4 separate regions of the Homo sapiens genome follow, and regions 2, 3 and 4 are each linked to region 1. The links come from fine-mapping of genetic effects on gene expression. A gene starts in region 1. Each other region holds a variant in brackets. All regions are shown on one strand. Distances are from middle to middle. Region 1 holds the start of LINC01176 (long intergenic non-protein coding RNA 1176). Region 2 has its middle 8.6 kb from the start of NOD1. Region 3 overlaps ZNRF2 (zinc and ring finger 2). Region 4 overlaps INMT (indolethylamine N-methyltransferase).

The links. PIP is the estimated chance that this variant, and not a neighbour inherited with it, causes the effect. A credible set is the group of variants that fine-mapping cannot tell apart.
Region 2: its variant is the best candidate, but not a certain one, in a credible set for the expression of LINC01176 in ileum (GTEx, PIP 0.58).
Region 3: its variant is the best candidate, but not a certain one, in a credible set for the expression of LINC01176 in whole blood (TOPMed, PIP 0.64).
Region 4: its variant is the best candidate, but not a certain one, in a credible set for the expression of LINC01176 in prefrontal cortex (GTEx, PIP 0.89).

The regions. Positions count from the first base shown.
Region 1 is chr7:30,386,440-30,394,611 of GRCh38, forward strand. LINC01176 (long intergenic non-protein coding RNA 1176) reads left to right here and starts at 4,446. Exons shown (of 3, transcript NR_108081.1): 1 at 4,446-4,596. RefSeq lists an enhancer at 4,628-5,246.
Region 2 is chr7:30,483,298-30,491,469 of GRCh38, forward strand. No RefSeq gene overlaps it. Among named protein-coding and RNA genes, the nearest start is that of NOD1, 8.6 kb to the left of the region's middle. The variant A/G (reference allele first, on the strand shown) is at 3,817.
Region 3 is chr7:30,358,909-30,367,080 of GRCh38, forward strand. It overlaps ZNRF2 (zinc and ring finger 2), which reads left to right. Exons shown (of 5, transcript NM_147128.4): 4 at 3,469-3,548; 5 at 7,127-8,172. The coding sequence ends at 3,526. Among named protein-coding and RNA genes, the nearest start is that of LINC01176, 28 kb to the right of the region's middle. The variant CA/C (reference allele first, on the strand shown) is at 4,054.
Region 4 is chr7:30,754,896-30,763,067 of GRCh38, forward strand. It overlaps INMT (indolethylamine N-methyltransferase), which reads left to right. Exons shown (of 3, transcript NM_006774.5): 3 at 527-2,707. The coding sequence ends at 956. The region is part of intron 2 of INMT-MINDY4 (INMT-MINDY4 readthrough (NMD candidate)); the gene reads left to right. Among named protein-coding and RNA genes, the nearest start is that of INMT-MINDY4, 6.8 kb to the left of the region's middle. The variant C/T (reference allele first, on the strand shown) is at 4,305.

The DNA of each region.
Region 1 (8,172 bases):
TTTAGTGTTAGACTGTTAATATATGTTGCAAATGTGTTTCTCAGTTTGCCATTTATCTTGGAATCTTCATGGCAGTGTATTTTCTTGTGGTGTTTTTGGGTATTTTGTTGCTGTCCAATATTTTTGCCTTCTTATAAAAGTAATCACACTTTTCAATCTTTGCTGTATGTTTTTGAACTTTGTGGTCATGCTTAGAAGGATTTTACCCATCTCAAGTTTACATAAACTTTCACTTGTATTTTCTCCTGGTACTTTTATATGTGGTTCATATTTAAAAACATTTAATCCATCCATTATAACAGCAGCTTTTTAAAACTGCAGAACTTTTTATTCTGCCCAATATGTTTGAGAGATTTGTGTCTTAGCAAGTGGATTTTTGCTTTAAAGTCCCATTGAACTAGTGCTGGAATAAGAACTAATAGTGAGATACAGTTTTTTGTATTATAATATTTATGCTCTTCCTCCACATCTTCATTTGGCTGGCTCTTTCTTTGTTCAGACCTCTGCATAAATCTCACACCTCAGAAAGGCCGCCTGTGGCCACCCCATCTTTATAAAATAGCCTCTCTCTGATCATTCTGTCTAAAGAAGAAGACCACCCCCATTGTTCTGCATCCTGTTCCCTGTTAAACTTCTTAGCACTTAGCACTGCCTACCTCATCATGTTTGTTTCCTTGTTTATCTTATCTCCCTTCTCCCACTAGAATGAGGACTCGATGAAAGCGAGATTTTTTTCTGTCTTGTTCATTGCAGTATCCCAGAACCCAGAAAAGATTCTGACACAAAATAGTCATCTATAAATATTTAAGTCAATGACTGAATATTTAGAAAATTATTGTGGTATTTTTTCAGAGTGTTAACTTCTTTTGAAGTGTTGTGTGAAAGACATCCATTAGTATCTCTGAAATTATGAATTAAAAAGAAGGCAATAGGCTGGGCGCAGTGGCTCATGCCTGTAATCTCAGTACTTTGGGAGGTAGGAGGATCACTTGAGCCCAGGAGTGCAAAAGCAGCCTGAGCAACATAGTGAGACCCCATCCCTATAAAAAATTTAAAAATTAGCCAGGCATTGGTGGGGCATGCCTGTAGTCCCAGCTATTCTGGAGGCTGAGATGGGAGGATCACTTGAACCCAGGAGGTTGAGGCTGCAGTGAGTCATGATTGCGCCACTGCACTCCAGCCTGGGCAGCAGAGGAAGATCTTGTCTCGAAAAAAAGGCAGTAGGCGAATATAATTCAATATAAAATAAAACTTTGTGGAGTCATCTAATGCCAGGGACATAGGTGGACCGCACCTAATGATGATGAAAATAAGACTATTAATGAAGCAGTTCACATCAGCCTTTTGATACTATGCTTTTATCAAGTTTGTGTAAATGAGATTATGCAAATAATAGTGATGGCTCTCACTTTGGAGCACTTATCTGAGGTCAGGAGTTCGAGACCAGCCTGGCCAGCATGGCAAAACCCCGTCTCTACTAAAAATACAAAAATTAGCTGGGTGTGGTGGTGCACACCTGTAATCCCAGCTACTCAGGAGGCTGGGGCAGCAGAATCGCTTGAACCTGGGAGGCAGAGTTTGCAGTGAGCGGAGATGATGCCACTGTACTGCAACCTGGGACAGAGTGAGACTCCATCTGCAAAAAAAAAAAAAAAAAAAAAAAAAAAAAAAAAAAAAAAAGAAGCAAAATCTGAATTTCACTCATCTTGAGTATGAACTGGCCCTAGTAACTTGTTTCTAACTAACAGAATGCAACAGAAGTGATGCTGTATGACTTCCAGGGCTTAGTTAGAATAGGTAATACAGCTTCTAACTGGCTTTCTCTCAGGAAGGTTCTCCGTGGAACCAAGGTTCTATGCTGTGTGAGAAAGCCCTGGCCACGTCAACCACCAAACATGTGAGTGAGGAAGCCTTCTAGATGATTCCACCCTAACCACCATCTGGCTAGAGCTGGATGAGAGACCTGAGGGAGAGCTGCCTAGCTGAGTCCAGTCAATCCCCAGAATTGTGAGAGAAGATGATATATGATTGTTGTTTCATCTCACTAAGTTTGGGATGGTTTGTTACACAGCGGTTGATAACTAGACCAGAGACCTTTCCTAGAAACGCTGGAGAACACGTGCCAGGATGGTCCTGGACATCTCCATTGTTTGCTGCTTGCTTCTCTACTGTGCCCATTGCCTGTGCTTTCACCAAACCCCCTATTAACCAGACATTGTCAGCTACCAGAAGTTTCCTGTCTTAGGATCTTGACACTTTTGAGACTCTTTGAAGTTACGAGACATGATGGACTTACTATCAAAAACTTGGCAAGCACAGTTACATCAGCAAGTGTTACTTTGTTCAAGTAAGAGGGGAAATAGTGCAGCATGGCAGTTAACCCTGTGCTCTCTAAGCTTTTACTGAATTTCAGTGGGTCATTCTAGAGACTTGGTAGCCACATGCGTGTCAGTTTGTTGATATTCAGTATTGATTATTCTCATAGGAGCTGTATATAATTGTTTTGAGCTTAAAACAAAGAAAATGATTAGTTTATGGTTCTAATCTTTTGGATTTTTTTTTTTTTTTTTAGACGGTGTTTCACTTTTGTCGCCCAGGCTGGAATGCAGTGGCGCGATCTCGGCTTACTGCAACCTCCACCTCCCGGGTTCAAGCGATTCTCCATCCTCAGCCTCCTGAGTAGCTGGGATTACAGGCGCCCGCCACCACACCAGGCTAATTTTTGTATTTTTAGAAGAGACAGGGTTTCACCACATTGGCCAGGCTGGTTTTGAACTCCTGACCTCAGGTGATCCACCCCCCTCGGCCTCCCAAAGTGCTGGGATTACAGGCGTGAGCCACCACGCCTGGCCTTGGATGTTTTAAAGTAAAATTTTCCCCACTGCAAAATAATAGATATGTGTTGTAGGAACTTTTGGAAACACAAGGCACAAAGGAAAAAATACCTTCATATTTCTCCTTTTCCCATCTCCCCAGAGACTTTTTTCTCCTTATTTGTTGGCATATGTCTTTCCATACTCTTCAATGCATATATATTCACAGGATAACATTATATGTGGTATTTTAGAACCACATTTCTAACATTCCATTTATCATGTTTTGTATTTGCATAGTATTCCATTTCGTAGTTGTACCATAATATCTTTAGACAATGCTTGTGGTCAAATAATTTCCCCCAATATTTTACTGTTACAAAAAATGTTTCGATGAACATTTTGGTCTAAAGTTGATGGATCAAGGAATATAGGGGTCATTATAAGTTAACAAATACAGCGTCAGATCATGGTACTACTCTGCTGAAAATCCCCCTTGGCTCCCATCTTACTCAGAGCCAAAGCTAAGGTCTTTACCATGACCTAAAATACCCTCAGCCATCCGGAGTGTGCATGTATGCATACACACAGACATGTACATGCCACTCACTCCTGCCTCTCTAGCTCATCTTCTCCTGCTCACCCCTGACTTGTTCCCCTGAAGCTATTCCTGGAATACACCAGGCAAGCAAGCCCCTGTGTCAGGGCCTTGGCACTTCTTCCTTCTGCCTATAACAATTCCTCCAAGTATCCACAGGCTTCCTCTTTCACTTCCTTTGTTGCGTTGGCTCAGATATCGCCTTATCTGAGTGCCCTTCCTTAACTATACAATACAAAATAAGTTCATGAATCTGCCCTCACCCCTACATTCCCTGTTTCCTTTACCTTGTTCTATTTTTCTATAACATTTACCTGACAAATCTTATGTTTGTTTATTGTCACTCTTCTTCCAGAATGTAAGCACTGTGAAGTCAAGGACTTTGTTAGTTTTGATCACTATTGTATCCATGGGTTCTAAAGCACTGCCTGGCACATAGTTGGCACTCAGTAAGCTAAGAAATAATAAGACTAACATATTGGGATTGTGGCAAGGAGGTAAGTATACTCCACTTTTTCAAGGGGATTATAAAGGGCATCATTTTTAGGTGGGAGATATTGGACATAGGAGTTTGTGAACCAAGAGACAGAGAAAGATGTTACTTGGAGATATGGAGGTTATAAGTATCAGAAGATTAGAAGTTCCGGGGATGTTTTAAAGTAAAATTTTTCCCATTGCAAAATAATAGATATCTGTTGTAGGAACGTTTAGAAATACAACTAAAGCACTTTTTGCTTTACTTGGAGTGGGTGGGACTGGAATTGGGAGGAGGGGCCATGGAGAGGCTGCTTTTTTTCATTGTGCATCTTTCTGTAAGACGTGAATTTATACCATGTACACCAATTACTTAAATAATAAGAGCATGTTTGGACTTCCAGTTTCTGGTGATGGCTGGTTATGAAAACTTGAAGAAACAAAATAATGGCTTTTTTTAAGTGAAGAACTAAAAAAACATTGAACTTCCAGGCCAGTTTTTGGATAAAAGTCTATAACCAGGGAGGGAAATGGAATACTGGAACAAAAAGCTGCCTGTGCTGAGACAGCAGTTGCTGATACCACAAACACTTGTCTGCTGTTTCTGTGGCCTGGCTGAGCCAAGAAAACATGTTAAAGCACAGAGCCCACGCAAGACAGTGTGCTTGCAGGAGACCCTACCAACAGGAATCGGATAACAAGGAGCTAAAGGTAAGGAGGAGTCAGAGCTGAACCCAGTGCCCTCTTCCCAGCAGTTGTAATGAACTGTGGCTACCTTGGTGCTCTTGGAGCAGGGAGGAAAAGAAATAGAAAATACAATTTCCCTGGAAGGCCTGTGCATATCTGCTTCCCTGAAGATTAGCTTCTCAAATATACATAGCTGGTTGGGCCAAGGATTCTCAAAATCTGAATTCGGCAGAAGCACAGCAAGATCTCTCTGGAAGAGGGCTCATCTCAAGCGTCAGGAGACTCCCGTTAAATACTTATTCAAGAATAATGTGTGGCAAGCGATAAAGATTACAAGTTACCCAAGCAACTTGAATATGAATGAGAATAGAAAATCACAGAAGCCCAGCTTCTTCCACTTAGCATAATCATTTGAGTCATCCATGTTGTCATGTGTATTCAGCAGCTTGGTCCTTTTAATTGCTGAGTGGCAATCCATAGTTTACTCATCCATTTACTAGTGGAAGATTTGTGTTGGTTCCAGTTTTTAGTGACAGTGGTTAAGCTGCTGTTAACATTCACCTAGAAGTTTTTTTGTTTTGTTTTGTTTTGTTTTTGAGACAGAGTCTCGCTCTGTCGCCAGGCTGGAGTGCAGTGGTCCGATCTTGGCTCACTGCAACCTCCGCCTCCCAGGTTCAAGTGATTCTCCTGCCTCAGCCTCCCTAGTAGCTGGGATTACAGGCACATGCCACCACGCCCAGCTAATTTTTGCATTTTTAGTAGAGACTGGGTTTCACCATGTTGGCCAGGATGGTCTTGATCTCTTGACCTCATGATCCGCCTGCCTCTGTCCCGCAAAGTGCTGGGATTACAGGCGTCAGCCACTGCGCCCGGCCTCACCTAGAAGTTTTTATGTGAATCAAAGATTTTGTTTCTCTTGAGTACATTCCTAGGAGTGGGATAGCTAGTTATATGATAAATATGTATATATACTTAGTAGGAAATTGCCAAACAGGTTTGCAAACTGGTGGTGCCACTTTGCATTCCCACCAAAAATGTATGAAAATTCCAGGTGATTGGCATCCTCACCAGAATTTGATATTGTCTGCAGTTTTGATGTTTTTGCTATTTTTTTGTTTTGACTTGGGTATACGGTGCATTTCATTGTGTTTTTCATTTTCATTCTCCCAATGCAAATGATGTTGTGTATTTTTTCATATTCTTCTTTGCTACAGGTATATTTTCTTTAGTGAAGTGTCTATTCAACCCTTTGGCACATTTTTGAAAAACTGGATTGTATGTTTTCTTACTGAATCTTGAGAATTCTTTGTATATTCTTGATACAAATCCTTTATCAAAAATATGGTTTTGGCCAGGTGTGGTGGCTCACGCTTGTAATCCCAGCACTTTGGGAGGCCAAGGTGGGCAAATTGCTTGAGCCCAGGAGTTCGAGACAAGCCTGGGCAGCATGGTGAAACCCCATCTCTACAAAAAAAAAAAAAAGTACAAAAAATACAAAAAATTAGCCAGGCATGGTGGTGGCACACGCCTTTTGTCCCAGCTACCTGGGCGGTTGTGGCTGTAGTGAGCCATGATTGTGCTGCTGCACTTCAGCCTGGGAGACAGAGTGACACCCTGTCTTTAAAAAAAAAAAAATTATATATATATATATATATATGTCAAATATATATATATATATGTCAAATATATATATATGTCAAATATATATATGTCAAATATATATGTCAAATATATACATATATATGTCATATATACATATATATGTATATATATACATATATATGTCATATATATAACATATATATGTCATATATATACATATATATGTCATATATATATACATATATATGTCATATACACATATATATGTCATATATATACATATATATGTCACATATATATACATATATATGACATATATACATATATGGCATATATACATATATATGGCATATATATACATATATATGGCATATATATACATATATGTCATATATACATATATATGTCATATATATACACATATATGTCATATATATACATATATATGTCATATATATACATATATATGTCATATATACATATATATGTCATATATACATATATATGTCATATATATACACATATATATATGTCATATATATATACGACATATATATATGTCATATATATATACATATATATATATGTCATATATATATACATATATATATGACTTGCAAGTATTTTCTATTTTCTCCCAGTCTGGCTTGTTCTTTTGTTTTCTTAGCAATGTCTTTTGAAGAGCAGACATTTAAAATTTTGATGGAAGTTCAATTTATTGGGTCTTTTTCTTTTTTGAATTGTGCTTTTGGTGTCAAATCTAAGAAATGTTTGGTAAACCCAAAGTTACAAAGATCTGTCTTCTAGAAAAGAGGTGAGCAAACTTTTTCTGTAAAGGGCCAAATAGAAAATATTTTAGGCTTTACAGGTCATAGTCACTGTTGTAGCATGTAAGCAGCCATAAAATACATAAATGAATAGGTGTTCAGTAAAACTGTTTTTACAAAAACAGATAAAGATTTGGCCCATGAGCCTTAGTTTGCTAACTCTTGTTGTAGAAGATTTAGGTATTGCAGTTAAGGTATGATCCATTTCTAGTTACTTTTTTTATGTGGTGCAAGCAATGGGTGGAGAGTTTTGTTTTTGTTTTTGTGTATGTATATACACTTATTCTAGCATTATTTGTTAAAAAGACTGTTCTTTATCCACTGTATTATCTTTACACCTTGTTTAAAATCAGTTATTCATGGGTGTGGATTTATTTCTGAATTTTCTTTTCTGCATCTGTGTCTGCCCCTTCTTTATGACTATACTGTCTTAATTACTGTGGCTTTGTAGTAAGTTTTGAAATTGGGTAGTGTGAGTCCTCCAGCTTTATTTTTTTTTTCCTCAAATGTTTTAGTTTTTATAGCTCCTTTGCCCCTCCATATAAATTTTGGAATCAGCCTATTAATTACTACCAGACTTCCTACTGGGATTTTGATTGGGATTGCATTGAACCTATAGATCAATTTTGACATCTTAACAATATTGAGTCCTGTTACCAGTGAATGTAATATATCTCACCATTTATTTCAGTTTTTTGTTTGTTTGTTTTTGTTTTTTTTGAGACAGAGTCTCTCTCTGTCACCCAGGCTGGAGTGCAGTGGTGCAATCTTGGCTCACTGCAACCTCCACTTCCTGGGTTCAAGTGATTCTCCTGCCTCAGCCTCCTGAGTAGCTGGGATTACAGGCACGTGCTACCACGCCCGGATAATTTTTGTATTTTTAGTCGAGATGGGGTTTCACCATGTTGGTTGGGCTGGTCTCAAACTCCTGACCTCGTGATCTGCCAGCCTCAGCTTCCCAAAGTGCTGGGATTACAGTCGTGAGCCACCACACCCAGCCTATTTCAGTATTTTAAAGTGTCTTTCATCAGCGTTTTATGGTTTTCAATATACAAATCTTTTACATAATTTGATAGGTTTATACTTGAGTATTCATGATTTTTAGTGCTATTGTAAATTGTAAATAATACTGTTTTAAAGTTTTTAATATTCAGTTCATTGCTGTTATATG
Region 2 (8,172 bases), 97 kb after region 1:
CCCGCTCCCCTACCTCTCAGCAAGCCAAACTCATTGCCTTAACTTGAGCCCTCACTCTTGCAAAAGGACTACACGTCAATATTTATACTGTCTCTAAATATGCCTCCCATATCCTGCACCACCATGCTGTTATATAGGCAGAAAAAGGTTCCCTCACTACGCAAAGGTCCTCCATCATTAATGCCTCTTTAATAAAAACTCTTCTCAAGACCACTTTACTTCCAAAGGAAGCTGGAGTCATTCACTGCAAGGGCCATCAAAAGGCATCAGATCCCATCACTCAGGGCAATGCTTATGCTGATAAGGTAGCTAAAGAAGCAGCTAGAGTTCCAACTTCTGTCCCTCATGGCCAGTTTTTATCCTTCTCTTCGGTCACTCCCACCTACTGTCCCACTGAAACTTCCACTTATCAATCTCTTCCCACATAAGGCAAATGGTTCTAGGACCAAGGAAAATATCTCTTTCCAGCCTCACAGGCCCATTCTATTCTGTCATCATTTCATAACCTCTTCCATGTAGGTTACAAGCCGCTAGCCCATCTCTTAAAACCTCTCATTTCCTTTCCATTGTAAAAATCTATCCTCAGAAAATCACTTCTCAGTGTTCCATCTGCTATTCTGTTTCTCCTCAGGGATTTCTCAGGCCCCCTCCCTTCCCTACACATCAAGCTCGAGAATTTACCCCTGCCCAGGACTGGTAAATTGACTTTACTCACATGCCCCGAGTCAGAAAACTAAAATACCTCTTGGTCTGGGTATACGCTTTCACTAGATAGGTAGAGGCCTTTCCCACAGGGTCTGAGAAGGCCACCGCGGTCATTTCTTCCCTTCTGTCAGACATAATTGCTCGGTTTGGCCTTCCCACCTCTATACAGTCCAATAACGGACCAGCCTTTATTAGTCAAATCACCCAAGCAGTTTCTCAGGCTCTTGATATTCAGTAAAACCTTCAATACCCCTTACCATTCTCAATCTTCAGGAATGGTAAAATGGACTAATGGTCTTTTAAAAACACACCTCACCAAGCTCAGCCTCCAACTTAAAAAGAACTGGACAATACTTTTACCACTTGCCCTTCTCAGAATTCGGGCCTGTCCTTGGGTTGCTACAGGGTACAGCCCATTTGAGCTCCTGTATGGACACTCCTTTTTATTAGGCCCCAGTCTCATTCCAGATACCAGCCCAACTTGAACTGCACCCCAAAAACTTGGATAGAACCTAAAAACTTGCCAACCAAGCAAGTAATTATGCTGAACCCCTTTGGTTACTCTCCAATTAGATGTCCTGGGTCCTCCCAATTCTTAGTCCTTTAATACCTGTTTTTCTCCTTCTCTTATTCGGACCTGTGTCTTCCGTTTAGTTTTTCAATTCATACAAAACTGCGTCCAGGCCATCACCAATCGTTCTATATGACAAATGTTCCTTCTAACAGCCTTACCACAAAATCTTCCTTCAGCTTAATATTTCCCACTCTAGGTTCCCACACTGCCCCTAATCCCACTCAAAGCAGCCTTGAGAAACATCGCCCATTATCTCTCCATACCACCCCCCAAAATATTCACTGCCCCAACACTTCAACACTATTTTGTTTTATTTTTCTTATTAATATAAAAAGACAGGAATGCAGGCCTCTGAGCCCAAGCCTGCACGTATACATCCAGATGGCCTGAAGCAACTGAAGAATCACAAAAGAAAGGAAAATGTCTGGTTCCTGCCTAACTGATGACATTACCTTGTGAAATTCCTTCTCCTGGCTCAGAAACTCCCCCACCAAGCACCTTGTGACCCCTGCCCCTGCCCACCAGAGAACAACCCCCTTTGACTGTAATTTTCCACTACCCACCCAAATCCTATAAAACTGTCCCACCCCTAACTCCCTTTGCTGACTCTCTTTTTGGACTCAGCCCACCTCCACCCAGGTGATTAAAAAACTTAGTTGCTCATGCAAAGCCTGTTTGGTGGTCTCTTCACACGGACGTGCGTGACAGTAAGAACCAGAATTATGGCTAGGATATGTGAACCCCCAATATCTGAGGCGGTCTCAGTTAATTTAGAAAGTTTATTTTGCCAAGGTTGAGGGTGCTTACCTGTGACGCAGCCTCGGGAGGTCTTGATGACATGTGCCCAAGGTGGTCAGAGCACAGTTTGGTTTTATATATTTTAGGGACACGTGAGACATCAATCGATATATGTAAGATGAACATTGGTTCGGTCTGGAAAGGCAGGACAACTCAAGCAAGGATGTCTTCCAGGTCACAGGTAGGTGAGAGACAAACGTTGCATCCTTTTGAGTTTCTGATTAGCCTTTCCAAAGGAGCCAATCAGATATGCATTTATCTCAGTGAGCAGAGGGATGACTTTGAATAGAATGGGAGGCAGGTTTGCCCTAACTTGACTTTTCCCTTTAGCTTAGTGATTTTGGGGCCCCAAGATTTATTTTCCTTCACAGATACTAATTCCTCCAGTCTATCCTTATATGAGCCTATGGTAGAAAAATTAGACACTTTTTTTTTCTTTTCCTCTAGGATTCTGAACTTTATCTTCCATGTCGTAACCTCTCATTCTATTTTCCTTATCCTGTTTCTCTGGCTGCATTCTGAGTCACTTCAGTTCTGTCTTTTGACTCAGCAATTATTTTGTAGATGTTTGAATCTGCTTTTTAACCTGTCTATGGCAGGCAGAGTAATCTCCCCCCAGTGATGTCCACATCCTACCCCTGGAACCTGTGAATATGGCAAAGGGACACTAAAGTTGCAGGTGGAATTAAGATTGCTAATCAACTGATCTTGATGGAGGGATTATCCTGGGTTATTGAGGTGGGCCCAATGTAATCACAAGGGAACTAAAAAGTGGAAGAAGGAGGCAGAAGAGGGAGAACCAGAGAGATGGCAGCCTGAGAAGGACTTGCCTGAGAAGGACTCGGCCGACATTGCTGGCTTTGAAGATGGAGAAATGAGACTGAGCCAAGGAATGCAGGTGGCCTCTGGTGCTGCAAAAGACAAGGAAATGGATTCTCCCACAGACCCTCCAGAAGGAATGCAGACCTGCCAACACTATGATTTTAGTCCAGTGAGACCCATTTTGGAATGCTGGCCTCCAGAACCCTAAGACAATAAATTTGTATTGTTTAAGACACTAAATTTATGGTAACTTGTTATAGCAGCAGTAGGAAAGTAATACACCGTCTATTTAAGTTCTTAATTTTAACAATAATATCTTTATTTTCTAGGATTTTTAGATATTTTTTGGTCTTTCTAGCTTTCTTGGTCATTTTTAATAGTCTCCTTTTCTTTGTTGATTTTATATTTTAAAACTATTTTATAGTTGTTTTTGCTTTTAAAATAATTTATTATTGAGACATAATGTTTGTATTTTTATGGGGTACATGTGGTATTTTGTTACATGCATAGATTGTGTGTAATAATCAAGTCAGGGTATTTGGAGTGTCCACCACTTTCTTTCTTTTTTTTCTGTTTTTTTGAGATGGAGTATTTATCCTTTCTTTCTTTCTTTCCTTTCTTTCTTTTCTTTCTTTCTTTCTTTCTTTCTTTCTTTCTTTCTTTCTTTCTTTCTTTCTTTCTTTCCTTCCTTCCTTCCTTCCTTCCTTCCTTCCTTCCTTCCTTCTTTCTTTCTTTCTTTCTTTCTTTCTTTCTTTCTTTCTTTCTTTCTTTCTTGTCTCTCTTTCTTTCTCTCTCTTTCTTTCTTTCTTTTCTTTTCTTTTCTTTTTTTGAGACGGAGTTTCACTCTTGTCACCCAGGCTGGACTGCAGTGAGTGGCATGATCTTGGCTCACTGCAACTTCCGCATCACAGGTTCAA[A/G]CGATTCTTCTGCCTCAGCCTCCTGAAGTAGCTGGGATTACAGGCACCCACCACCACGCTCAGCTAATTCTTTGTATTTTTAGTTGAGACGGGGTTTCACCATGTTGGCCAGGCTGGTCTTGAACTTCTGACCTCAGGTGATCCACCCACCTCGGCCTCCCAAAGTGCTGGGATTACAGCCTTGAGCCACCACACTCAGCCGTGAGTATTCATTATTTGTGTGTATTGGGAACATTTCAAGTCCTCTCTTCTAGCTCTTATGAAACATAAAATACATTGTCAATAACTATAGTCACTCCACTCTGATATAGAACATTAGAACTTACTCCTTCTCTCTAACTCTATTTTTGTACACATTAACCTATGGCTCTTCATCACCCCACCACCTGCCCTTCCCCGATTCCCAGCCTGTGGTAACTATCATGCTATTCTACCCTCTACCTCCATGAGACTAACTTATTTTTAGCTCCCACATGTAAGTGAGAACATGCAGTATCTGTCTTTCTGTACCTGGCTTATTTCACTTAACATAATGACCTCCAGTTCCATCCATGTTGCTGCAAATGACAGGATCTCATTCTTTTTATGGACAAATAGTATTCTGTCATGTATATATTTGGTTTGTTTTTAAACCTTTTGAGATCACTCTAAATTCACATACAGTTGCAAGAAAGAGAGATCCATGTATCCTAACCCAATTTTCCTCAGTGGTAACATCTTGCAAAGCTATAATACAATATTACGACCAGAAGGTAGACATTAATGCCATCAAGATACAGATCATTTCCATCACCACAAACCTCCTTCATGTTGCTCTTTATACTACCTCCTCCTCTACTTAACACTTGGCAACCACTGTCTGTTATCCATTTCTACAGTTTTGTCATTTCAAGAATCATACATAAATGGAATCATACATTATGTAACATTTTGGAATAGTTGTTTTCAGTCAGCATAATTCTTTGAAGATTCATTCAGGCTGTTGCATGTATCAATAGTTCTTTCCTTTTTATTGTAAGTAGTATTGCTAGGTGTGAATTACCATAGTTTGTTGAAAGGCATCTGGGTTATCTCCAGATTTGGACTATTATGAATAAAGCCACTATAGGCATTCATATACAAGTTTATGTGTGAAAATAAGTTTTCATTTCCCTGGGAAATGTCCAGAAGTGCAACTGCTGAGTTGAGAAACTTATAAAGTTTTCCCCAGAATGACTGTACTATTTTACATTCCACCAGCAATGTATGAGTGGTCCAACTTCATGGCATACTCACCTGCATTTGGTGCTGTCATAATTTTTTGTTTTAGCTATTCTGATATATGTATAGAGCAACTGATACATCATTGTGGTTTTAATCTGCTAATAATGATTTTGAACATCTTTTCATGCACTTATTTGCTGTGTCTTCTCTTGGGTGAAATGTATCTTCGTAGCTTTTCTTCATTTTTTTTTTTTTTTGTTTTTTATTTTTTGAGACTGGGTCTCACTCTGTCACCCAGGCTGGAGTGCAGTGGCACGATCATGGCTTACTGCAGCCTTCACCTCCTAGGCTGAAGTGATCCTCCTGCCTTGGCCTCCTAAAATGCTGGGACTACAGGCATGAACTACCATGCCCAGCCTTTTTGCTTCCTTTTCTGATTGGATTGTTTGCTTTTTTACTGTTGAGTTTTGAGAGTTCTATATTTGGTGTGTAAATGTTTTGTCCCTCTCCTAGCTTGTCTTTTCATTCTCTTAGGGTCTTTCAGAGAGCAAAGGTTTTGTTTGTTTGTTTGTTTTTTTAATGAAGTCTAATTTATCCATTTTTCCCTTTATGAATCATGTTTTTGGTGTCAAATCTAAGAACCGTTTGCCAAGCCCTAGATTGCAAAGATTTTTTACTATGTTTATTTATTTATTTATTTATGTTTACTAGGAGTTTTATAGTTTTATGTCAGACATTTAAGCGCAAGATGGACTTTGAGGTAATTTTTGTATAAGGTGTGAGACTTAGGTCAAGGTTATTTTTGTCTTTTTCTTTTGACTATGGATGTCTAATTGCTGCTCTGACACCATTTGTTGAAAAGACTGTCCCTCCTCCATTAAATTCCCTTTGCACCTTTCCAAAAAACCAGGTGAGTATATTCGTGTTGATCTATTTCTAGATTCTCTGTTCTGTTCCATCGATCTATGTGTTTATCTCTATGCTAATAACATACAATCTTGAAATTGGGTAGAGTGATCCCTCTCAATTTATTCTTCTTTTTAAAAATTGTTTGAGTTCCCTTTGCTTTCCATATAAATTTTAGAAAAATAATTATGCTGGTATTTTGAGAGGAATTTTGTTAAACCTGCATATCAATCTGGGGGAGAATTGACATCTCTACTATGTTGAGTCTTCCAATCCATGAACATGGCATGCCTTTCCATTTATTTAGATCTTCTGTGAGTTCTTTCATTAGTGTTTTATAGTTTTTAGCATACAAGTCCTGCACATGTTTTGTGAGAGTTACACTTATGTATTTCTTTTTTTTTAAATAAAGCAATTGTATATATTGCTGGTAGGAATGTAAAATGGTTCAGCCAATGTGGGAAACATTTTGGGAGTTCCTCAAACAGTTAAACATAGAATTACCATATAGCCCAGTAATTCTACTCCTTGGTATGACTCTATAATTGAAAAAAGGTACTCACACAAACATATGTACATAAATGTTTAGAGCAGCACTATTCACAATGATCAAGGGTGAAAATAATCTAAATGTCCATCGATATATGGATAAGCAATTTATGGTATACCCATAAAGCAGAATATTATTCAACCATAAAAAGGAATGAAATACTGATACATGATACAATGTGGATGGAGCTTGAAGATATTATGCTAAGTGAGAGACACCATACACAAGGTCACATATTGTATGGTTCCATTTATATTAAATACCCAGGATACCTAAATCCATAGAGACAAAAAATAGATTAGAAGTTTCCAGGGTCTGGGGAAAGGAGAAATGGGCAGTAACTACTTAATGGGTATGTGGTTTCCTTTAGGGGTGATGAAAATATTTTTGGAGTAGGTAGAGGTGGTGGTTGCACAACATTGTGAATTTATTAAATGCTACTGTATTGTTTACTTTAAAATTAATTTTGCTATGTTAATTTCATCTTATAAATAAATATGCAATTAAAATGCAATTGTAAATGTTATTGCATTTTAAAATTTGGTGTCCATGTATTTATTTCTAGTATATAGGAATGCAATTGATTTTTTATGTTTATATTGTATCCCATAATGCTGCTGAACTTACTTACTTGTTCTAGGGGATATGTTTTGTAGATTCTTTGGGATTTTCTGCATAGACAATAATGTCATCTGAAAATAGGGATGGTTTCATTTATTCCTTTCTGATTTGTGTGCTTTTTATTTCCCTTTCTTACCTTATTGCACTGGCTAGAACTTCCAGCACTATGTTGAATAAGATGGGTAAGAGCAGGCTGGGTGCAGTGCCTCAAACCTGTAATCCCACTCCTTTGGGAGGCTGAGGCAGGAGGACTGCCTGAGGCCAGAAGATTGAGACCAATGTAGGCAACATAGTGAGACCCATCTCTACAAACATTTTTTCAAAAGTTAGCCAGGTGTGGTGGTGTGCACCTGTAGTCCCAGCTACTAAGGAGGCTGATGCAAGAGGATTGCTGAAGTCCAGGATTTTGAGGCTACAGTGACCTATGATTGTGCCACGGCACTCCAGACTGGGTGACAGAGTGTCTCGAAAAGAAAAAAAAAAAAGACTGGTGAGAGCAAACATCCTTGTCTTGTTCTCAATTTTAGGTAGAAATCATTCAGTCTTTTATTATTATGTATTAATATAATGTTAGATCTAGGTAATTTATAGATGCTCTTAATCAAATTGTTGAAATTCCCCTCTATTCCTATTTTTCTGAGAACTTTTATCATGCATCGGTGTTGAATTATGCCAGATGCTTTTTCTGCACCAGTTGATATGATCATATAGCCTTTCTTCTTTAGCCTGTTAAAAAAAAGTGGCATATTTTGATTGATTTTCAAGTATTGAACCAGCATTGCATCTCTGGAATAAACCCCACTTGGTTATGATGTATAATTGTTTTTATGTACTCCTGAATTGTTTGCTTATATATTGATAACGATTTTTGCATCTATAGAGATATTGATCCGTTGGCTTATTTTTGTTTACTTGTGTTTATATTGTCTCTGATTTTGGTATCAGAACAATGCAAGTTTCATTAAATGAATTGTTGGGGGTTACCATATACCCTTCCCTGTCTCTGGTAATTTTCTTTGCTCTACAGTTTACTTTATCTGATATTAATATAGCCACTTGTTTTTTCCTTTGGTTAA
Region 3 (8,172 bases), 28 kb before region 1:
AATAGAAACAACTTCATAGAGTATAAGGGTATAAACAAGTGCTGGCACATACATAATAGATGCTATATAAATGTTGAATAAATGAAAAAAATTGATTTGCCAGAGACGAAATTACAGTATAGGAGAGAAAGAATGAACTATTCAATAAATGGTGCTGGGATCAATTGGTTATTGATATGGAAAAACAGTTGAGTCCTTATCTTGCATTTGAAATAAAAGTCAATTCCAGGTTGACTAAATACCTGCCTCTGGAACCAAAATCTAAAGTGGTGAGGAAAGAAAATCGTGGAAATGTTTTTGACTTCTTGGTAGAGAATTATTTTTTGTCTGGGATACACTTCTCCCCAAAAAATAATTTCAAGATTGATAAATTTGGCTATATTAAAATTTAAAACTTATTTGTATCATGACCCAGCAAAAAAGTAAAAAACTAGACTTTATACTAGGATTGTTTTTCAACACACATAATAAAAGAGGTTTGGTATTGGAAATAGCGTTCTCCCTCTATGACTTTCTGTAATGCAGTGAACTCATTGCATTTGGTAAATGGGAGAGTGAAGACAATATAATAACAGGATCTTACTGGTTCTACATAAGATTTTCCAGCACATTAATGTTCTGCTTCATCAGATAACAGCAGATGAAAGTATATGCTAACAACGAGCTATATAAGAATACAGTATACCCATCTCCCCATGTTCTTACTCTTAGTTTAATTAGACCATGGGCTTTGCTGTGGAGTCCTAATATTTCACAGTTCTCACAATTTGTGCATTAGCTTTTTTCTTCATAACTCAGCAGTCTCAATCCTACCTTAATCCTCTTTCTGTAAGGCTAACTTCACCATTTTAAAAAAACGTATTTACAGTCGTGTTCTATTTATTAGGAATGAGCATGTCTTTGTTCTGGTGATAAAACTGTGTTATTTGAGTAGTCTGCCTTTAACCTGACTTTTCCCACAAGCCCTGTTACTTTAGCTTAAAGTTTTGTGGAAAGCAGTGTTTATCAAAAGCCTGTATATTATAACTGAAATACCTGGATAATAGTTTCCTAGAAAACTATCAGTTAATTCAGAAAAAAGGACCCTCAATTGGCCAATAAATAATACAAATAGGCATATTTGGTAGATAACCCTGTAATAGCTGTGTGGAGTACATATTCTACAACTCAGTAATTCCACCTCTACATATATGCCCTAGAGAAACTCTTGATCTTTTGCTCTAAGACAGTGCTACTATTCAAAGTACAAGTCCAGAAGGCAATAAAGAGTTTCTGCCAGTTAAATCAACACTATGCTTCTTTCATTGAGAAAGCCTTGCTGTGATTTTTTAAAGTCATTTGAAACAGTGTGATTAGTGAGGAAATTAACTTGTATTTGGGCGCAAACTCCTTATCTCAAAGAATGTTCATAGCATCATTGAAAATGTCCATCAGTGAAAGAATGTATATGTAAATTGTTTATATTTATATAATGGAATGTTGTACACAATGAAAATGTAAAAACAGGCCAGGCGCAGTGGCTGACACCTATAATCCCAACACTTTGGGAGGCTGAGGTGGGTGGATCACCTGAGTTCAAGACCAGCCTGACCAACATGGTGAAACCTTGTCTCTACTGGAAAAAAAAAAAAATTAGCTGGGTTTGTGGCAGGTGGCGCCTGTAATCCCAGCTACCCAGGAGGCTGAGGCAGGAGAATTGCTTGAACCCGGGAGGCGGCAGAGTTTGCAGTGAATTGAGATGTTGCCACTGCACTTCAGGCTGGGCGACAGAGCAAGACTCCGTCTCAAAAAACAAAAAGCGAAAATGTAAAAGCAAGAGACTTACTAACAATTGCAAATCTCAAATTGAGCAAAAAAAGCAAGTTACAAAAAGCATAATGCTGTTTTATGGTAGCATTTATATAAAATTTTAAACATGGAAGCAGTACTATATGTTGTTTTAGAATATACACATATATAGTTATATAGAGTAAGAAGATGCCTAGAAATGAAAAATACCAAATTGAGAATAGTGCTTTCCTGCTAGGTCTGAGAGAAGGGAATATAATCATGTAAATAACAAATGAATATAGCCTAGAATGGAACATATGTAGATTGACAGACGTTTATGTGAAGAGGACCTGGAGTTTTAAATGATTACTTTCTCATGATGAGCCAGAGTTACCTGGTTGTAAAATAAGGAGTACTCATGTTAGCTCGCAAATAGATACTATTCAGATATATTATGAATTAACACATCTGGAGTATTTTATTTGATGCTCAGAATTTTGTTTTAAGAGGTTTTCTGGTAGACACAGTGGAACTTCCAGGGCCAAGTGGTAGAGAGCAGGCTGAAAACAATGTCTTAAGCCAAACTGGCTATATATTTCGAGAACAAAAGTCTTAATGGCAGCTGAAATTCAGATATTTGAAAGAACCTGTTGATGTGGTACTCTACCTTTTTTCTTTTTAGTTTCATCTTATCACTTTTACCTACCAAACCAACCTATCTGGACATGAGGATGATAAATGTTAATTTTGCCCTTCAGTATATTAACCAAGTCTTGTAGCTTTGCGGCATATGCAAATTTGAAATATGTCACCAATGAAAATGTTGAACAGGTTGAATCCTGCTTGGATAACTTGCTAGCTGTTAGGCAAGTAATAGCTAGTTAGTAGACCTTGATTTTTTCACCTATCATGGTACTGTGAAATAGAACTTTCTACCATAATGGAAATGTTCTATATCTATGCTGTCCCCTAGAGTAGTCGTGAGCCATGTTGCTGTTGAGTGCTTGAAATGTGGCTAGTGTGACTGAGGAACTGGATTTTTTTATTTTATTTCAATAAATCTTAAATAACCAGTGTGTGGCTCTTGTCTACTCTGTTGGACAGTGCAGATCCACAATGACGATGATCATATGCACCCTAATATTTAGCTTCTAATAAAATAAGATCATAAAATACTTCCTAAATACAAATGATTAATGTATATTTATTTGTGTATGTATATGTATTACATGGTGGGATAGGATTTAAATATTCAATAATCACATATAAATATAGCTTTAAAAATGAAATATTGGCAAGGATTAAAATTTAAAAGCCGTTTTTTAATACATTTATAGGTGACATGAACAGGTTGATAATGTGCATAAATGAATAACTGTTTTGAAAAGAAAAATTATGCAAATTTGTTATTCAGTTTTGAATATTGGTAAAGTGGTAGTTCAGATTATCTTTTGGAAGTAGTTCTGTTTGAACTTTAAAGTACTTTATAGCATAATTTTGCAAAGGTTTTTTTCTTAATCGCTTAGAATCAAAATATAATAAACATTCTTATCTGTTGCTTATGTATGCCAAATATAATTTAAAATGCTCATTTTTTTCTGTAAAAAATATATTAAAGTCAAGTATTTTTACTGTGGCTCTCATTATATAAATAATTAGTATAAGTATCTCAATTTTTCTGGTTTTGTTCCTTTCTAGCTGCATAGATGAATGGTTTGAAGTAAATAGATCTTGCCCTGAGCACCCTTCAGATTAAGCGTCAGCTTCCTGTTTTATAGGTAATTTTTTTTGTAATTACTTTTTAAAGCGTTAGCCCAAATTATACATTCTAAACTATAATTTTTATTTATTCATTTACTCATTGAGGTGCATGAGTGTGTATGTGTATGTTTCAGACACTTAGGCTACTGCATAGAAAACTTACATTAAAAATATTGTATAATTCTAATTGTTGGCTGGGTATGCTGGCTCGCGCCTGTAATCCCAGCACTTTGGGAGGCCTCAGGCAGGTGGATCACTTGAGGCCAAAAGTTCAAGACCAGCCTGGCCAACATGGTGAAACTCTGTCTCTACTAAAAATACAAAAATTAGCCAGGCTTGGTGGTGCACACCTGTAATCCGAGCTACTCGGGAGGCTGAGGTACAAGAATCACTTGAGGCTGGGCATGGTGGCTCACACCTGTAATCCCAGCACTTTGGGAAGCCGAGGCGGGCGGGTCACGAGGTCAGGAGATTGAGACCATCCCTGGCTAACACGGTGAAACCCCGTCTCTACTGAAAATA[CA/C]AAAAAAAATTAGCCAGGCCTGGTGGCGGGTGCCTGTAGTCCCAGCTGCTTGGGAGGCTGAGGCAGGAGAATGGTGTGAACCCAGGAGGTGGAGTTGGCGGTGAGCTGAGATCGTGCCACTGCACTCTAGCCTGGGCGACAGAGCGAGTCTCCTTCTCAAAAAAAACAAAAAACAAAAGAGAATCACTTGAACCCAGGAAGTGGAGGTTGCAGTGAGCCGAGATCATGCCACTGCACTCCAGCCTGGGTGACAGAGCAAGACTGTCTCAAAAACAACCAAACCAAAAAATAATAATTCTAATCATTTAGTATTATCATGTGCCAGGTGTTGTTGTAAGCATTTTACATCTATTAGTAACTTGTCTAATTGTTACAATAACCGTTTTGAGCTCAGTACCATTACTGTTCCTATTACGCAGATGAAGAAATTAAGTATAGAGAGGTTAAGAAACTTGACTTTTCAAGTTCAGATAACTAGTTTGTTGGTGGGGATGAAATTTGAACCCAGGTATTCTGGTTCCAAAGACTGTTCTTAGCAATTTTGCTCTTTTTAGGTAGGAACATTTTCTTCAAACAGTCGCATCATAAATTTATTCATTCAATTTAATCATTCACTTTTATATCTTTAGCATGTAATACAGTGCCTGTCTATATAGTAGGCAAAAAATAAAGTTGCATTTTACGACTGAAAAAAAAACTAGTTTTGTTCTACTGATTTAAGTTTTTCATGGTTCTGCATTATCTGAAAATGTTTAGTGAATTGAATGCTGACCTCAATTGGGTATTTTCATAGGGCTTTTTTTTTTCACATTTCACAAGTGCATTAAATTGACATCATTTAGCTTTGAAAAAATAAAGGTTAACTTAATTGCTATCTTCAAATATATGAAAAGCTTTTATGAAAAGACTTGGAGAGATGATATAAAGCATTGGATTGTTATATCAAGGCAGAGCATTTTAGCTAATCCTAGAATTGTTTCAGGAGTGAGAGTCTCTTTGTTCAGGGACTCAAGACAGTAACAGCCGGCTTTTCTAGGAGGCTGAGACTGATGGCAAGGAACTAGACCAGATGACGTCCAGAGGTCTAGTCCTGTGTGGTACCATTTCCTTTTATTTCAATAACTTCTCTTAAATTTGAGAATAAAAGTGTTGAGGTAATAAACACCCTCAAGGAATTCTGTTGCTGTATTGGTGGAAGATGATTTAAGAGTAGCAGATTAGAATATTGACAGAGAAGATTTGAGATAATAGCAGCAATAGCACCTGAAATGAGAACTGCAGTTGAGTGTCATAAGACTACGCATGTGCATGTGAAATGTGGAAGCCTTGGTAGACTGCAGAGTACTAAAAGACTGCCAATTTTAACCTTTCCTGTGAACTTACTTAGATCATGCCTTGACACATTTAAAATATGAATTGAGGCTGAACACTAATTGCTTGAGATAAGGAGTTTGAGGCTGCAGTGAGCTATGAACACACCAGTGCACTCCTGCCTGGGTGACTTAGCAAGTCCCTGTCTAAATAAATAAATAAATAAAATGTGAATGGAAGTAAGAATGCTAGGTAAGAGAAGTATAGTGGTGGAGTGGTATTTTGAATATATGTGCACATATGTTTTTATTTCACCATAGAAAAGGTTTGGAATGCCTTCATTGTCACCTTATGTTTGAGACAAAACGAAACTGTGGCTAAAATTATAGAAGCATTTTAAGGGAAGTACTGAAACTGATGCTAACAAAATGAAATTTTTGTCTTAGTATTTTACATGCCAAAGTAATACATCTAAATCCTTCATCTATAGATAAAATTTGTCTTTTTAGTCTTTCTTAGTGCATTTTGGGCTGCTATAACAAAATACCTTAGATGAGTAATTTATACATGACAGAAATTTAGTGCTCACAGTTCTGGAAGCTGGGAAGTCTAAGATCAAGGTTCCAGCCAGTAGATCTGGTGTCTGATGAGGGCTCATTGCTCATTTATGGCACCTTCTGTGTGTCCTCACGTGGTGGGATAACAGACTCCCTCAAGCTTCTATAAGGATACTAACTGCATTCATGTGGTCAGAGCCCTCATCACCTAATCATGTCCCAAAGGCCCCACCTCTTAATACTATAGCACTGCAGATTAGGTTTTAACATAGCAATTTTGGGAGTACACAAACATTTAGACCATAGAGCTGATAAGCTTTTTTTTTTTTTTTTTTTTTTTTTGGTGAGGTGGAATTATATTGTATAAATTTTTTTTCTTTCATCAGCTAAATTTTTCCTTTAGTGTCACAGTGAGCTTATGGGATATGTGGAGCATACATCTCATCTCATAGCTGAAATGCATATGTCTGTTGGTCTTCAACAACATTTCCATTTTCTTATGTTACATATGAGTGTTATATTTGCTTATTTGTTTGTTTTCGAATATAGAACCTGAATTTGAAACTAGCCTACTACATGGGCAGGGTGAACTCTGTTAATCAGGTGTCTACAGAAATCTGAACCAATGGAGTCTGCTTCTGTGGGTCTTGAAGAGTCATTTTTAAGAGTTTATAGACATGGAATATCTTGACTTGTACATTTTTGCTTCTGTCCTGACTGTTCTTATTTATCAAGTGATAAATTCTTGTATACCTTTTAATAGTCCTAGATTAAAGGTATATGGGTTTGAGGAGGATTCAGTGTTGTTAAAACATTTTGTAAGGCACTGTGTAGCCATAAAGCTCAACGTTTCTGATATCCTTCAGCATAAGAATTTAATAATCAACCCAAAATAGAGAGACATGAATATTTGTGGTCTTGATTAGTTAGAAAATTGCTGTACTTATTTTGGGGTTTTTAGTTATTTGGGAGAAATATTTTAAATCTCCGTGTGTGTGCATTCTTTACTTGCGTGTAGTCCTTATTGTGAAAGGGGGATGACTTTGTTATGTATTTTTTGTGACTAAACTTTAATTGATCCTTCTGTTTCTTAATCTGTTCTTCTCCAGATCACTGATTTTATGAGTTTTCAGAATAGTAAGTAAGGGTATGAAGACTTACAGTAACTAAAGCAATGTTCATGGGGAAATCTATTTTTACACAGGTTTTCTTGTCTTGACAAGATGCTTGAAAAACCAAGAGGATATGAAAATCTGTCTCTGGAGAAACAAAGACGCAGGCATACTCAGCCAGAAATCTGAGTTTTGTGAGACTTGGTAATACAGAGATGGACAATCGTACTGGGGTAAAAAAACCCTGCTGAAGAGAGGACAGTGACCACAGAACTCAGTGTACCAAACATGCATACAAAGGACACACAGGGATTTTGAAAATGCTGCACATCCCTTAATAGTCATCTACATAGGTAATACTGATAAACATTTTGTATTCAGACGCCAAAGTTAACTGATTTAAAAGTTGATTTACTTTTTATTAAGTTCTCCAGAGCTGCACAACTAGTTATGTTTTGATTTGTTTTGTTTTTTAATTTGGGGTCTCTTTGTTTTCCCCAACATAATGTTCATAATGTTTCTGCATTCATCTGTTCTTAAATTGAAAAACATATAATTTACTTCTTATAAATTGAAGTCTTAAATGTGAAACCAAGAAATGTAATCAAGCAGTAAAAACATCTGAATGTAGACCATGATCTCAAGTTCTTCCATTTTCTCCCCCACGAGTGGAAAATAGACTTCTACATAGGAAAGCTAAAATATGTTAATATTTTTAAATTAAAGGTTTAATATCAGAATGCAGTCCAAAGAGCAAATCATATTACATAATTACATTTTAATTAAATATAGAATATTCTACTGAATTGCAATTTATTAAATATTCTTATCCTCTTAAATAAAACTGCTCAACAGTTAATCAGCAGTGAATCATCTTGCAGCTATGCAATTTAAAAAAAATACAGATTACCAATTTCAAGTGCTGCCAGCTAAAATAACTGTTTTAACGGGTATCTTTTGTTTGTTCTTTTCACTTAATTATTTTATTGTGCTTTGCATCTCCAGGCAGTTCTCTCACATTTGGGTAAAATGTTTAGCAGGCTGTAAACTTAAGAAAAGGGTAAAATAAAATTTTCTGGAGAGGAACTTGGAATTTGAGGGAGATTTTATATACCTTTAAAAACTGTAATTTAATTGG
Region 4 (8,172 bases), 370 kb after region 1:
TATCATTCCCTTTTTCAAAAAATTTTTTTCTTGCATACTTATGTATATCTAAACAATCTATAATTTAGTTTTAGTCGCCTTTGAGCTTTATAGCAGAGTAATTTGCTCTGTGTCATTTGCGATTTGCTTTTCATCACTCAAAATTATATTTTTAAGATAGCTATATTCATACATTATCTGTAGTAAATTCATTAATTCATTCATCCATCCATCCAATAATGTTTGTTAACTGCCCTCTCTGTGCTTGGGGTGGCTTTGTCCATCCTGGGGATTAAGGGAAGGGGGCTCACATGGAATCAGAGAGAGAAAGTTTCCTATAATTGTTCTAGCCATTCTCCCTAACCATTTTTCTTTGGGAGAAACTGAGGCTCAGATTGAAGAAGAGCCTGCTGTCAGGTCACACAGGGACTCAGGGACAGCAATCCTTTGGGGATCCAGAGATCATCTCCATCTGCTGGTCACAGTGGACTGAGAGTTCCCTTCAGAACCTCAAAGGGCCTCCCCGACTCCCTCTCTCTCTCTGCAGCGGCCGATGGGAGGAGAAGGAGGAGAAGCTGCGGGCAGCGGTGAAGCGGGTGCTCAAGTGCGATGTCCACCTGGGCAACCCGCTGGCCCCGGCTGTGTTGCCTCTCGCCGACTGTGTGCTCACCCTGCTGGCCATGGAGTGTGCCTGCTGTAGCCTTGATGCCTACCGCGCTGCCCTGTGCAACCTTGCCTCACTGCTCAAGCCGGGTGGCCACCTGGTGACCACTGTCACGCTTCGGCTCCCGTCCTACATGGTGGGGAAGCGTGAATTTTCCTGCGTGGCCCTGGAGAAAGAGGAGGTGGAGCAGGCTGTCCTGGATGCTGGCTTTGACATTGAACAGCTCCTACACAGTCCCCAGAGCTACTCTGTCACCAATGCTGCCAACAATGGGGTCTGCTTCATTGTGGCTCGCAAGAAGCCTGGGCCCTGAGCCAGGAGGGCCAGCCAGAGGTCTGGTCAGGCTGTGAGGCCTTGGCCATCTGTATGCTAGAGAGGGGTGAGGAATGGATACTGTCTAACAGTCTCTGATTTCAACACTAACATTCCATCTTCTGAAATTCTGAGATTCTAACATCCTTGTTTTAGAATTCTAAGTTTCCAACATTCCTCATTCTAGGATCCTAGGAGTGGAATTTTCCATTTTCTAATATACTAAGCCTTACAGCTATCTTAGATGCGATCTGACTCCTGTGTGACTGTGGAGCACCCAGGGACGTGGTTTTAGAGTCTACCTAATATGTTAAGGACAAGGAAACCTCTGAGTCTACCTAATATGTTAAGGACAAGGAAACCTCTGGACAGTGGTATATTGGGGAATTTTTTTTTTTTTTTTGAGACGGAGTCTGGCTCTGTCACCCAGGCTAGAGTGCAATGGCACGATCTCGGCTCACTGCAAGCTCTGCGTCCTGGGTTGACGCCATTCTCCTGCCTCAGCCTCCCGAGTAGCTGGGACTACAGGAGCTCGCCACCACACCCAGCTAATTTTTTTTTTTTTTTTTTTATTTGAGACGGAGTTTCGCTCTGTCGCCCAGGCTGGAGTGCAGTGGCGCGATCTCGACTCACTGCAAGCTCCGCCTCCCGGGTTCACGCCATTCTCCTGCCTCAGCCTCCCGTGTAGCTGGGACTACAGGCACGCGCCACCATGCCCGGCTAATTTTTGTATTTTTAGTAGAGATGGGGTTTCACCGTGTTAGCCAGGATGGTCTCGATCTCCTGACCTGGTGATCCACCCACCTTGGCCTCCCAAAGTGCTGGGATTACAGGCGTGAGCCACCGCACCCAGCCAGGGGGAATGTTCTATAACCAGCTCTGTAAAGGAAAAGCACTGATGTGTGGTAGTCACCAATTTCTGTGGTGTAAATACTCCCACCATGGTTGATTTCAAGCCACCAGTGGTTTAATAACCAGCTCATAAATCTCCTAAATATTTTACAGTTGACTCTCATGAGCTGATTGGAGTCAGCTGGAACATACCACTGCCTCTAGACTAAGGTCAGCAGATTTAGCAAATACAGACTGCCCCAGTTCATTGAATTTTAGATAAATGAAATAAATCTATAAGGTTAAGTATGTCCCCAGAACTGCATGGAACATGCTTAATCTAAACAATGATTTGTTGTTCACCTGAAATTCAAATTTAGCTGGGTGTCCTGTATTTCATCTGGCAACCCTACTTCAGACCCAGGTGTAAGGTACATGGATGTGCTTTGGTCAAGGAATAGGCCAAGGCAGAGATCCATGCCTGCATGACTCAGTGGGTTTGGTGCACAGGCACACACCTCCACTTGTTATATAACCTGTTTGTGTAAGTTCATACTTGGTCTGAGCCACTGTTGTCTGTAAAAGGTAATTGTCCTGCTAATGCTGTACAGGGGCTCTTGGGGTTCGGCTCAGCTCAACATGGCTTGACATGGTGGGCACACTGGCGCCCAGTAAGAGAGAGAGAGAGCCAAAGCTGTCCGTTTTGCAGATGGACAGGAAGGAGCCAGGACACAGCTCAGCTTGCTCACGCCCAGAGAGAGAAAAAGTTAAGCTGCTGACCCTGAAGGCAAGGGAGAGCAGGCTGCACAGCTGTGTGTGGAAGCCACGGGCTCAAGCAGCCAAGGCAGGGCGGACAGTGTGAGAGAGCTAGTGTAAGCTGTTGATGAGAGCTGTTGCTGAATAAAACCATATTCACCTGCCTATGGGCCCTGAGTGTTCTTTCTGTCCATCTACCCACTCCCCTCAGACTTTAGCACGGGCTGGACCTGGACCCCAGGACCTGACACCAAGTGAGAAGAGGAGCAGCCCAGGGATCAAGGGTATTCCTCGTACATAAGGTGCCTTTGTGCAAATTAGGAAGAGGTGCTCCTGCAGATGGACACATTGCAGAAAGGAGTGTTCAGGGCTGATTAATTGAGAAAAGCTGTTCCATCTCCCTGTGGAAGCGCTATGAGAACAAGGTGCCTCTTCTGGGCAGACCAATTAGAGAAAGATGTCCCTTCCTTAAGGCTGATTGGGTCACACTACTGAGCACCTGTCAGCCTCCCTTTTTCCCTCAGCCCCAATCTGTGCCTTTGTGTGGGTACACCCTGGGCACAGCAACCTTGATAAGAGCCAGGAGACCTGGAATCTACTCTCAGCCCTGCCACTAATTGTTTCACTTCTCTGGGCCTCGTATTCCTATCCATGAGATTTAATCTAATAATCTACAGGAACATCCTAAGAACAGCAGGAAGTCATTGATGTGGAAGTGCTTTTTTTTTTGAGGCAGAGTCTCACTCCGTCGCCCAGGCTGGAGTGCAGTGGCGTTATCTCGGCTCACTGCAAGCTCCGCCTCCCGGGTTCAGGCCATTCTCCTGCCTCAACCTCCCCAGTAGCTGGGACTACAGGTGCCCGTCACCACGCCCGGCTAATTTTTTGTATTTTTAGTAGAGACGGGGTTTCACCGTGTTAGCCAGGATGGTGAAAGTGCTTTTTTTAAGGTGTAGTTTCACTCTTGTTGCCCAAGCTGGCGTGCAATGGTGCGATCTCAGCTCACTGCAAGCTCCGCCTCCTGGGTTCAAGTGATTCTCCTGCCTCAGCCTCCTGAGTAGCTGGGATTACAGGCATGCACCACCATGCCCAGCAAATTTTTGTGCTTTAAAAAGTAAAAGGTTTTGCACAAATTGACCCATTGATGTTATTCCCCCAGAGGGTCAGGGCTGAGATGGTCTTTCAAAATTACCCAGTCTAATCTCCGGGTTTTTTGTTTGTTTGTTTTGAGACAGAGTCACACTCTATCGCCCAGGCTGGAGTGCAGTGGTGCAATCTCAGCTCACTGCAACCTCAGCTTCCCACGTTCAAGCGATTATCTTGCTGCAGCCTCCCAAGTCGCTGGGACTACAGGCGTGCACCACCACACTCAGCTAATTTTTTTATTTTCAGTATAGACAGGGTTTCACCATGTTGGCCACACTGGTCTTGAACCTCTGACCTCAAGTGATCCTCCCTCTTCGGCCTCCCAAGGTGCTGGGATTACAGGCGTGAGCCACCATGCCCAGCCAAATCTCCATTTTTTTTGTAGTCAGGGACGATAGGTCCCAAGAGGGAAAGCGACTTGTCCAGAGACACACAGCAAGCTGGTGACAGAGCTGGAGTAAGAACTCAGGCGTTCTGACTCCTCGTTCACCCTGTGTACCCTCATTCCACCAGGTCTCCCCACCCGGCTTGGAAGGGCAGGGGGCCCTGCTTCCCTTTGGCTCTCTTTTAGCATAGACTCGTTTCTGTGATAACATCCCTGCCAGCAGTCCTTCCCTTC[C/T]GGGCTCATGCTTTACCCCAGAGAGCATGTGGACCCCAGCTCTTCTCTCAGTACAGCCCTCTCCGGCCTTGTCTGGAAAGGCATTGAATATGGGTAGTTTTATTTTTATTTTTATTTTTATTTTTTTGAGACCTAGTTTCGCTCTTGTTGCCCAGACTGAAATACAATGGCATGTTCTTGGCTCATTACAACCTCCGCCTCCTGGGTACAAGTGATTCTCCTGCCTCAGCCTCCTGAGCAGCTGGAATTACAGGCGTCTACCACCATGCCTGGCTAATTTTTGTATTTTTAGTAGAGAAAGGGTTTCACCATGTTGGCCAGGCTGGTCTCGAACTCCTGACGTCAGGTGATTTGCCCGCCTTGGCCTCCCAAAGTGCTGGGATTACAGGTGTGAACCACTGTGCCTTGCCGAATATGGGTAGTTTTAGACATGCTCATGGCAGAATGATCAACAGGCGGAAGAAGTGGGAGGTCCAGCCGATGTGGATCCCTGAGAGCCCATGTCCACAAACAGGGGAAGAATAGTGGCTAAAATAGGTCTTGTAGGGAATTTTAAAGACAAGTGAATTGTCTGTTGAGGCAGCCAAAAAGGGGCTGGCTTCTGCCAGGTGGCAGCCAGGCAATGTCCAGGAGAGGAGATTGCCAAGGAAAGGAGGCTACAAATGCCCCCTCCTTGTGATGTCAGGACCTCCCTTAGCGAGCGATCTGGCCAAGACACAGGGAAAAGACACAGGATCCAGACCCGGGGCTCTGCTCCTTGGACGGCTCAGTGCAGAGAGTCAGCTGGCTGCCTGGAAGGAGAGAGTGGGCAAGGGTGTGAGGGAATCTTTGGGGGCTGTGGAAGCTGTTCTACCTTATGAAATGGGGCTGGGATGGACTGAGGGACTATGCTGTGCTCTGTCATTTGTCCATAAGTACTCTCTACATGCTCTAATAAAACATTTTGTTTTACTCTATCCAATGGGCAGAACCTGTGATATGCTGTCAAGACTATGGGGGAAGGACTCTTTAGGGAAGAAAACCCTATTGTGACTAAAGGAAGGAACCTTCTGTTTGGGGCAGAGAGGCAGACTTGTAAGTCATGACCATTGGTCCACAGAACTGTTTCATCATGCAACGGTGAAACTCTGTACCCGTTAGACAGTAACTCCTGGTCTCCCTTCCCCTCGCCCCCAGCAACCGCCATTCTACTGTGTCTTTATGAATGTGACTACCCTAAGTACCTCATATAAGTGGAATCATACAGTATTTGTCCATTTGTGACTGGCTTATTTCACTTAGCATAATGTCTTCAGGTTCATCCGTGCTGCACTGTGTCAGAATTTCCTTCCTTTTCAAGGTTGAATAATATACCATCGTATGGATATGCCACATTTTGTTTATCCATTCATCCACTGATGGACACTTGGTGGTGTTTGTGTTTGGGCTATTGTGAATAATGCCGTTATGAGGCCAGCCACAGGTAAAACTCACTGAATTCTCACAACAGCTCATGTGGACAGTATTATTTTGAAATTCCATTTTACAGGTGAGGAAACTGAGGCACAGACCTTCTCAAAGTAGCTATTAAGTAGAGAGCTGGGCTTATGAACCCAAGCACTGTCATTCCAGAGCCTGAGCTTAACCTGGACCCCACACTGTCATCTCACAGGGGTGCAGAAGAACATCTAACTAGGCTTGGGGGAAGTCCAGGAAGCCATGGAGGTGATCTGTGAGCTGAGAGTGAAGAGTGAATAGTTCACTGATGGCTGATGGAGAAAAGGGCTAGCCATTCCCAGCAGAGGGAACACCTGTGTGTTGCGGCTAATTACACAAAAACCCATCTCCACTCCTAAGTCATGGCCCCTGTGGTCCTGAAGTAACCTGAATTTGAAAACAGAAGACACAGGAGATTTATTATCTGTGTGGTACCCCCTACTTCCTACCTATCTACCTCCACCACATCATAGGAATCAAGTAGCAAGGCCAAGCCAGACTTGGAGAGATGCCAGCAGAAGCATTTCATAGGCTCAAAAGGACGTACATTTCCCAATCTCTTCCTGACCTATTTCTAACTCCCGTATCCTTATGGGGGTGGAGCTGGAGGTTGAAGGGTCTGTGGGGGAGGTGGGGAAGAGGAGGATGAAACCCCAACAGCTCTTTTGCCCTCTGCCTGTAAGTTCAGCTTATCTTATCCTAATGCATTCTTGACTCCTTGCTGAGAAATGCTGCTTATCTTGCGACTCCATTCTAGTCTCAAAAACCCTGCATTTATTCTTTTTCCTAGAACTCTGAAAAAACCCAAGCTTGGGGAACATGGTTGTTTACCAGAGTCATTTTAACTGCTTATCTAGAAAGGAAAGGAACAAAAGTTGGCCATTCTGGTCATCTCAGCTTAGGCAGCACAGAGGTCATGGAGAAATTTTCGTAGGCAACTGCCTCTACTTACGGGAAAAGCTATAAAAACATACAGTTGTGTACAAGCACAGAAGTGAGACAGGCCCAGGCTCGTGTGGAGATCAAGGACTGCAGGACTTGAGTTCTGAGATCCTGCACATGTGGGCATGTTATATGTACAATAAGCGTGTGGGGTGTCATGAACTGAGATCCTAATAAAAAGAACCAGAGGTATAGAAACATGACATCTTGAAACAAAAGAACGCCAGTGTTCCAGAGATTGCTAGTTGTTCTCCCGTGCCCACTATGCCCATTAACTTCTTCAGAGTAATAGATTTTTTGGCTGGGCTCCATTTAGCTGGGCAAGGCTGCCTTAAACAAGACTATATTTCCTAGTCCCCTTTGTAGCTTTGTGCGGTCAAGTGAGTGAGTTCTGACCGAAGGGATTTGAGCAGAAGTGTCGTACCAGCTTCTGGAAGCCTTCCTTAAGATGTCGTAAACCTAGACTCTGCTATTTACTCTTCATCCTTTACCCTGTCCTGTGATCTGGAATGTGGCTGCTGGCATCTTGGTTTAGGAGGTCAAGGCCACACATGGCGGAGAAACAAGACAGAGGGAAACTGGGAACCTAATAATGTGAAGCACTCATGAGCCCTGGGTTTTTATGTGAGAGACAAATAGACTTTCATCTTGTTTAAGTCACTGATATTATTGTTACCCTTATTATTATTATGGCAGAAATGCCAGAGAAGTGGTGTTGTGTCTCTTTCAGTGCATAAGGAGGTATGTAACATTGATAGTCCTCTGGCTGGGGATGATAACTTTGATCACTTGGTTAATGGGTTGGCCAACTTCTCCATCATAAAGTGAACATTTTCCCCTTTGTAATTAAGCAGTATCTTATGGAGAGATTCTTTGAGATGACATAAATATCCTGTATCCACTAGTTTTAGCATCCATTGATGATTCTTGTCTGAATGAATTATTATCATTATCCTGGTTGCCAAATGATGATTGGCAAATTCCATCATCCTTTCTACATTTATGAGTTCACATTCAAATGTAAGGAGAGGCTTTCCCTTCTCCTTTATATATCTATATATATATATATATATCTATATCTATCTATCTATCTATATATCTATCTATATATATATCTATATATCTATCTATATATATATCTATATATATCTATCTATATATATATCTATATATCTATCTATCTATCTATATATCTATATATATATCTATCTATATATATATATAAACATGGACTCATGGGTTCTTATTTTATTCAGTTGGTTATAATCTGTGACTATCATAACTTACTCTGATATACAGATTTAGCCAGTAGGACCCCTTTTAAGCTGGGTGGTGGTTTGTTCTTCTGACATGATTCCCTTATTTTTTTGAGTACTTCCTTACTAAGTTACTCTTATTTTGAGTTTTTCTGTCACTCTGAATGGAAATGGGTACTAACCATTATAATCAG